Homo sapiens: one gene and its partner. The protein of the gene in region 2 interacts with the protein of the main gene of each other region in a biochemical or structural test. Each region holds a gene or a part of one and is shown on either strand. Other genes may lie near its edges.

The links. Proteins that work in one complex are often made in the same cells at the same time.
Region 1: the proteins of GOLPH3L (region 2) and FAM3C form a complex in vitro, tested with the Homo sapiens proteins (one study listed by BioGRID).

Annotation. Positions count from the first base shown.
Region 1 is NC_000007.14:121,389,809-121,393,308, forward strand, and holds part of FAM3C (protein FAM3C precursor), read right to left. Parts: intron 3,120-3,500; exon of another isoform or gene 3,060-3,119; intron 1,554-3,059; exon of another isoform or gene 1-1,553. UniProt on the Homo sapiens protein: May be involved in retinal laminar formation. Promotes epithelial to mesenchymal transition.
Region 2 is NC_000001.11:150,690,655-150,694,154, reverse strand, and holds part of GOLPH3L (Golgi phosphoprotein 3-like), read left to right. Parts: intron 1-3,500. UniProt on the Homo sapiens protein: Phosphatidylinositol-4-phosphate-binding protein that may antagonize the action of GOLPH3 which is required for the process of vesicle budding at the Golgi and anterograde transport to the plasma membrane.

The DNA of each region.
Region 1 (3,500 bases), on a different chromosome or scaffold from region 2:
ATTTCAGTGGACTATAATTACAAAACAGGAATCACTGAAGTACAAGGAGGATAGAAATCAGACTTCTGAACTGAGCCAGCAACATCTAAATGACTGGAAATGAGTAGGATGAAATTAATATGGGGCCAAACTGGAGTCTATTACACCCCCATATACACCTAAGTTGCATTTTAAAACAAAGTCATCAGTACAATTTTCATTACAAATAGATGTCAACTAAGGACACCTTATATAAACTCCTCATTGCAATCAAATAATTTATATGGTAAAAGATCTGAAGAACTGTTGCTTTGTAATTTTTTAAAATCTCATATCTGCTATGCTTCATAATAACCTGTTAAGATAATAAGAGGAACCTCTGGTTGCCAGGCACTTAATACCCTATTTATTTTAACTAAACTCATTTTGCATCTTGCTTCCCTCATTTTAACTAAACTCAGGATAAGGCTTACAACCACATTTTTATTTCTTAGTAGTGAAACCACCATTGCAAAATTATAACTGAAATGGTGAAAAAGATCTGACCTAACCAACTCCATCTTGCTTCTAACCTCCAGGTTGTCCTTGTTCATTCCTGGGCATAGGCCATAACTTTGGGAGGAACTTAGTTTATAGTTTAAAACAAAGATGGTAACAGCCCTTTCCCAAAACAAACCTCCTTCTTGCCTGGGGACTAGACTGCCTTTGTAGGACTAACAAATTAGCCACAAGATTGGAAATTAGGGCTTAGGAGTCATGCAGCTGAAAGCTACCAGATTCTGACCCTTACCATCTGTGGCGTCATAGATTCAATGAAACATCATATGTTCTTTGAACCTCTTACTACAGGGTTACCTATAGCATGCACACCAGAATTACTAGTGTGTTTTTTAAAATGCAAACTCCTGAGCCAACTGCATACCTGGAGAATCAGAATCCCTAGGAGTGGGATTAAAGCTCTTGCATGTTTAATAAGCTCCCCAGATGACTGTCATTCGTGCTCAGATCTGAGAGCTTCAGATCTACAGCACACCAATCCACACACACAGGAAAGGCTGTGTGGGGCGGGGGGGGGGGGGGGGGGGAAGGTAAGGCAGATCTAAACCAAAAAAGTTCAAAAGTAAAATTCACATGACAAGATTTTTCATTCTTTCTGGAACAGTCAACCTGCCACCAGAATGGGTCTTCAGTTTTGGTGGGCAACAGATAAATCCAGAGAAAATGTGGTGAGGAATAAATAATCAAGAACTCCTGTTTGCAGGGGTTAAACCAGAGTACTAGATTTAATATTACTCAAATGTTTTCTTGCAGTTTTTATTATCTACCAAAGCAGAATTTTGCTTAAAAAGTTATAATCCACTTAACGAAATGAAATGGTGACTGGATTTCTGCAACCAAGACCACAAACATACCCAAAACAGAAAACAAGACAGAACTCTACAAAATGACATTCAGTTTTGCCTGCTATGAGTTCTACAATTGTTTAAACACTTGTGATCTAAGCTACCTTAATCCTATAGTACACCATCCAGGGAGAGATGGATAGATGAATGAATGGATGGACAGAAAGAAATAGCTATTCTTAGAAACAATGACAACAATAAAATGAAATATATTAACTGTTAGAGGTTGAACATAAATGGGGTAATGAAGTGTCCCACTCATAAACTGCTAAAATGAGATTAGAGAAAGGTACACATTTACATACAGTAGAACTGCTATCTTCATCTCATGTAACTATCTCACATTGTACTAGATGAGAAGTTATAGGTTCCTGTTCTACGTGTTTAAGAATTCCCTTAGGTATCCACTCTACTTATGCTGTTTTGAAGTAGTCTGCAGAATTTAAGTGCACCAGGGTAGACATAATTCCATCAGTCACACCCTCCAAATGAAGACATGGAGAAACAGAATGGTTCCATCGCCCAAGGGTCCTGGATGAAATGCAGTATTGGCACACCATTTGTACCACAAAAACTGAATGAGAATTAGCACTGCTGAAGTAAATTAAAATGGAAACCATGCCTGAAGAATCCCCGAGCAGACAAAACCAATTAGGCCTCATAAGTGACATCAACCTCACTTGATTTGCAAACATAAGCAAAATATGAAGTTACTTCTTATAAATGCCTATGCTAAAGAAAAAGAGAACTTAAGCTTAATCAATCAGAAACATCCAACAAACTTCTAATTACATATCTAGGGGACCTTCCAACACGACAGACCAAATAAAACAACTGTATAACTGCAGCCAATCAAATATTTTCTTTGCTTTACATCTGTGACCCTCCTATAAAAGCCTCCCTCCTGGATTCCCCTGGTGGAGCTCCCAGATCTGGTTTGGAGCTGCTCAATTCATGAATTGTTTGTTCAAATAAACTCTAAAGATGCTTCTATTGTAAAATTTTGTGAAAACGTATTGTATTAGTCCGTTTTTGCACTGTTATAAAGAAATACCCAAGACTGGGTAACCTATAAAGGAAAGAAGTTTAACTGACTCACAGTCCCACATGGCTGGGGAGGTGTCAGGAAACTTACAATCATGGAGGAAGGCTAAGGGGAAACAGACACCTTTTTCACAAGGCAGCAGGAGAGAGAAGAGAGAGAGTGCAGGAAAAACTTCCATTTGTAAAACCATCAGATCTTGTAAGAACTCACTGTCACGAGAACAACATGGGGGAAGCCGCCCTCATGATGCAATCACTTCCCTCCCTCGACACACAGGGATTACAATTTGAGATGAGATTTGAGTGGGGACGCAGAACCAAACCACACCACGTATCAACTGAACCAACTTAAAAATCCATTTTTGTTGACCTTGCGTCTTTCAAAACTCATTTAACAATCACTTAACTGCAAGTAATGAATGATATGTTAGGTAGCACACCTGACACCATAACACTACCTTAGCAAGCCTTGTAGAGATTATGACGAAAATCAATTTAGAGATGTTCATATAACTTTCTGAATAGCACACAAAAATTTAACAAATGAATAAACAAAATGCAGTACGTATCAACGAAATGATATATATGTAATGTGGTGTATATGAATGGAATATAGAATGGAATATTACTCACCCTTAAAAAGGAATGAAGTACTGATACCTGCTGATTTAGAGGACGAACCTCTAAAACATGCTAAGTGAAAGAAGCCAGACACAAAAGAACACATATTGAATTATTCAATTTTTAGGAAAATCCAGAATAGATAAATTTATGGGGGCAGAAAGCAGATCAGTGGTTGCCGAGGATTGGCAGGGAGAAGGGAATGAACAACTGCTTAATGAATATGGGGTTTCCTTTTGGGGTGATGAAAATGTTTTAGAAACGTGACGGTTCATAACATCATGAACGTGCTAAATGCCACACTTTAAAATGGAAAATCTGGCTAGGCATAGGGGCTCATGTCTGTAATCCCAGAGCTTTGGGAGGCTGAGGTCGAAGGATCACCTGAGGGCAGATTTGGCCAGCCTGTGCAAAATAGTAAGATCCCGTCTTTTAAGAAAAAAAATTATAAAA
Region 2 (3,500 bases):
TTACGCGGTGGCTCACGCCTGTAATCCCAGCACTTTGGGGAGCCGAGGTGAGTGAATCACTTGAGGCCAGGAGTTCAAGACTAGCCTGGCCAACATGGTGAAACCCCGTCTCTACTAAAAATAAAAAATTAGCCATGTGTGGCGGCGGGTGCCTGTAATCCCAGGTACTCGGGAGGCTGAGGCAGGAGAATCACTTGAACCTGGGAGGCGGAGGTTGCAATGAGCCAAGATTGCACCACTGCACTCCAGCCTGGATGACAGAGTGAGACCCTGCCTCAAAAAAAAAAAAAAAAAAAAAAAAAAAAAATATATATATATATATATATATATATATACACACACACACACACACACACATACATAAACAATTGAGGATTATTTTAATTTTTGAAAATTTTTAAAAATAATTTTAGCTTTTCTCTTTTTTCCCTAAATGTCTCCTTATTTAATGGAACATTTATTTTATAGTACAGTTAGTCTTAAGGTCCTGAGTCTTGTGATATAACCAGAAATTTCCCTGGCTTCTCTACTAGTATACATCATCATCCTTCATTTGTAACTTTTTGCTGTGTTTTCTCATCACACTATTCCCTCATGAAGAAGTTACGAAGGTAACATTTTAAACAATCTGCTTTCTTTCCAGGAAAGCCTTAAATAACCGCCCCCCCTCGCCCACCGCCTGCAAGAAAAGAAAGAGGTATATTTATTACTGGCCTCAGTTTTGAAAACATACAAAATTAGAATGTTATTTTAGATTTTAAAAGTACTAAATTTGGCTTTGATAATTATCCTTAGCTAGAAGTGAATTGGCTGCATACAAGTAGTAACAGCTCTTCTTTTCTACATAATTCTTCGACTTGGAAATACCATTGTTGTTTAGATTTTGCCTTTCATTTATTTACTATTTTCCTTTTTACTTTTTTTCTTGTTAAATTACCAACTTGAACAAAATTTACAGACCAGTTATAGTCTGTGTATTGTTAAAACTAATATTAGAGACATGCTTATGTGTACCTGGCCAAGATGTAGGTATATCAGAAATTCTTGCCCGGAAATATATTTTCCTGTTTGCTGAGAAGTTGATGAGCCTTCAGTTTTATAAAAGGCAAATAAACGAAAAGGCAAAACCAGCTCTCCAAGAGAATGTCAGAATAGGACTGAAGATTAGGTGATATAAATACTCTTTTGAGACGTTTACACATTACCTAGGAAACAGTCACTGACTGTATAAAAAGAGGATATAGAACTAAAAGCTATTTGGTTTGTTTTAGCTTTGAATAGGAATGATTAATTTCCTGCTGACCTTATGCACTGGAATTTTTGCTTTTGGGCTTGTCTTCATGTGTTTATAATGGTTAATATAAATTTTAGGAAATAGAATAAAAAATAAAGCAGCTCATTAAGAGCTATGGCCATGGTGAGTACTTAACATATTGGTGAGATACTGTACAAAATAAGCAGATGGCTGGATGCAATGGCTAATTCCTGTAATCCTAACACTTGGGAGGCCAAGGTAAGAGGATTGCTTGGGCCCAGGAGTTCAAGACCAGCCTGGGCAACATGGTGAGACACCATCTCTACAAAAAATTTAAAACAAAAAAATTAGCTGGACATGGTGGCACATGCCTGTAGTCCTAGCTACTCAGGAGGCTGAGTCAAGAGGATGGCTTAAGCCTCGGAGGTCGAGGCTTCAGTGAACCAGGATTGTGTCACTGCACTCCAGCCTGAACAACAGAGCAAGGCCTCAAAAAATAATAAATAATAGCACATAACAATTAACCACCTTTTGAATTGCTCTAATTTTATTTTTGAGGATAGTTAACAAATATTTAGCTTTCATTTGGCTCAGGAAGAATAAAAGACAATAAATCCTTAGGTGTAAATGAATAGAAGAGGTCAAACTTTGTGATTTATTTAAATAGTAGTAGTTACAAAAGGCCAGTTACATAACTATCTCTAAAAATATTAAATTGATTCCCAACTGTACTTATTTTTTTCTTATCTCTCAAACTATCAATAGATTCATTTAATCAATATTTAATGTGATTGAGGACACCCATTATGTGCTTAGGATTATGCTAAATATTAATACTAAGGTAAATATAAAATAGTATAGTATATGGTCCCTGCCTTCAAGAAACTTGCATTCTAGCTGGAGAGACAAAAAGATACATACTTTTTAAAAGTTAAGTAACCCGAAGGTCCATCAACAGCAGAATGGATAAAAATGAATCATCAAAAAAAAAAAAGAGTCATCCATTTGTTTAAATGAGTATAAATATGTTTTCTATACAGAATGAAAATGAACATTGTTATACAACATGTATATTTCTCACATTATGTTCAATAAAAAAAGCCAAACACAAAAATATACATACTGTATGATTCCATTTATATGAAACTCAAAAAACTATTGTATTTGAGGTTGCATATTTAGGTGGTACAATTATAAACAAAATCAAGCCAGGAATTACTATAGTTTTTAGAATAGTGATTATCTTTTTGTAAGGGATAGGGGAAGGAAAAGGGTGTTAGTAATTAGGAAGGAAAATGGAGAGGATTTCTAGATAGTAACAATTTTCTGTTTCTGGACCTAGAGGAAGTTTCATAGTTTTGTTTTTGTTTTTGTTTTTGTTTTTAAGACAGAGTCTTGCTCTGTCACCCAGGTTGGAGTATAGTGGCACCATCTTGGCTCACTGCAACCTGCGCCTCCCGAGTTCAAGCAATTCTCCTGTCTCAATCTCCTGAGTAGCTGGGATTACAGGCACCCGCCACCATGCCTGGCTAATTTTTGTATTTTTAGTAGAGATGGGGTTTCACCATATTGGTCAGGCTGGTCTTGAACTCCTGACCTCTCAGGCGACCCACCCAACTTGGCCTCCCAAAGTGCTGGGATTATAGGTGTGGCCTCCCAAAGTGCTGGGATTACAGGCGTAAACTACTGCTCCCGGCCTTTTTTATTTATTTATTTATTTTTGATACGGAGTCTTGCTCTGTCCCTCCTGGCTAATTTTTGTATTCTTAGTAGGGAAGGGTTTTCAGCATGTTAGCCAGGCTAGTCTTGAACTCCTGATCTCAAGTGATCCACCTGCCTTGGCCTCCCAAAGTGCTGGGATTACAAGCGTGAGCCACTGCACCTGGGCCATAGATCTTCACTTTGGAATAATTAAGCTTTTTACTTTGTTTTGTTTATTCTTCTGTGTGTACATTATATTTCACAATGCAAAATATTTTTTTTAAAGTAAACAACAATAAAAAGCAAGTTTTTGCATGTTAGAATGAGCCAAGGGAGTTAGAGAGAGGAGAAACCATCATGAGATAGAGTAATCCGGGGAAGAATAGAAAAAGGCAGTAAAACAAGCCATGCCTTTAAAAATGGGAGGATTAACATGAATGGAGAAAAGGAAACACGTTCTGGATGAGGGAACCTGAGTGAGCAAAGGTATCATGAGCTTGATGAGTTTGGGAGATAACTGTGAGTAGGCCAGTATGACTGAAGT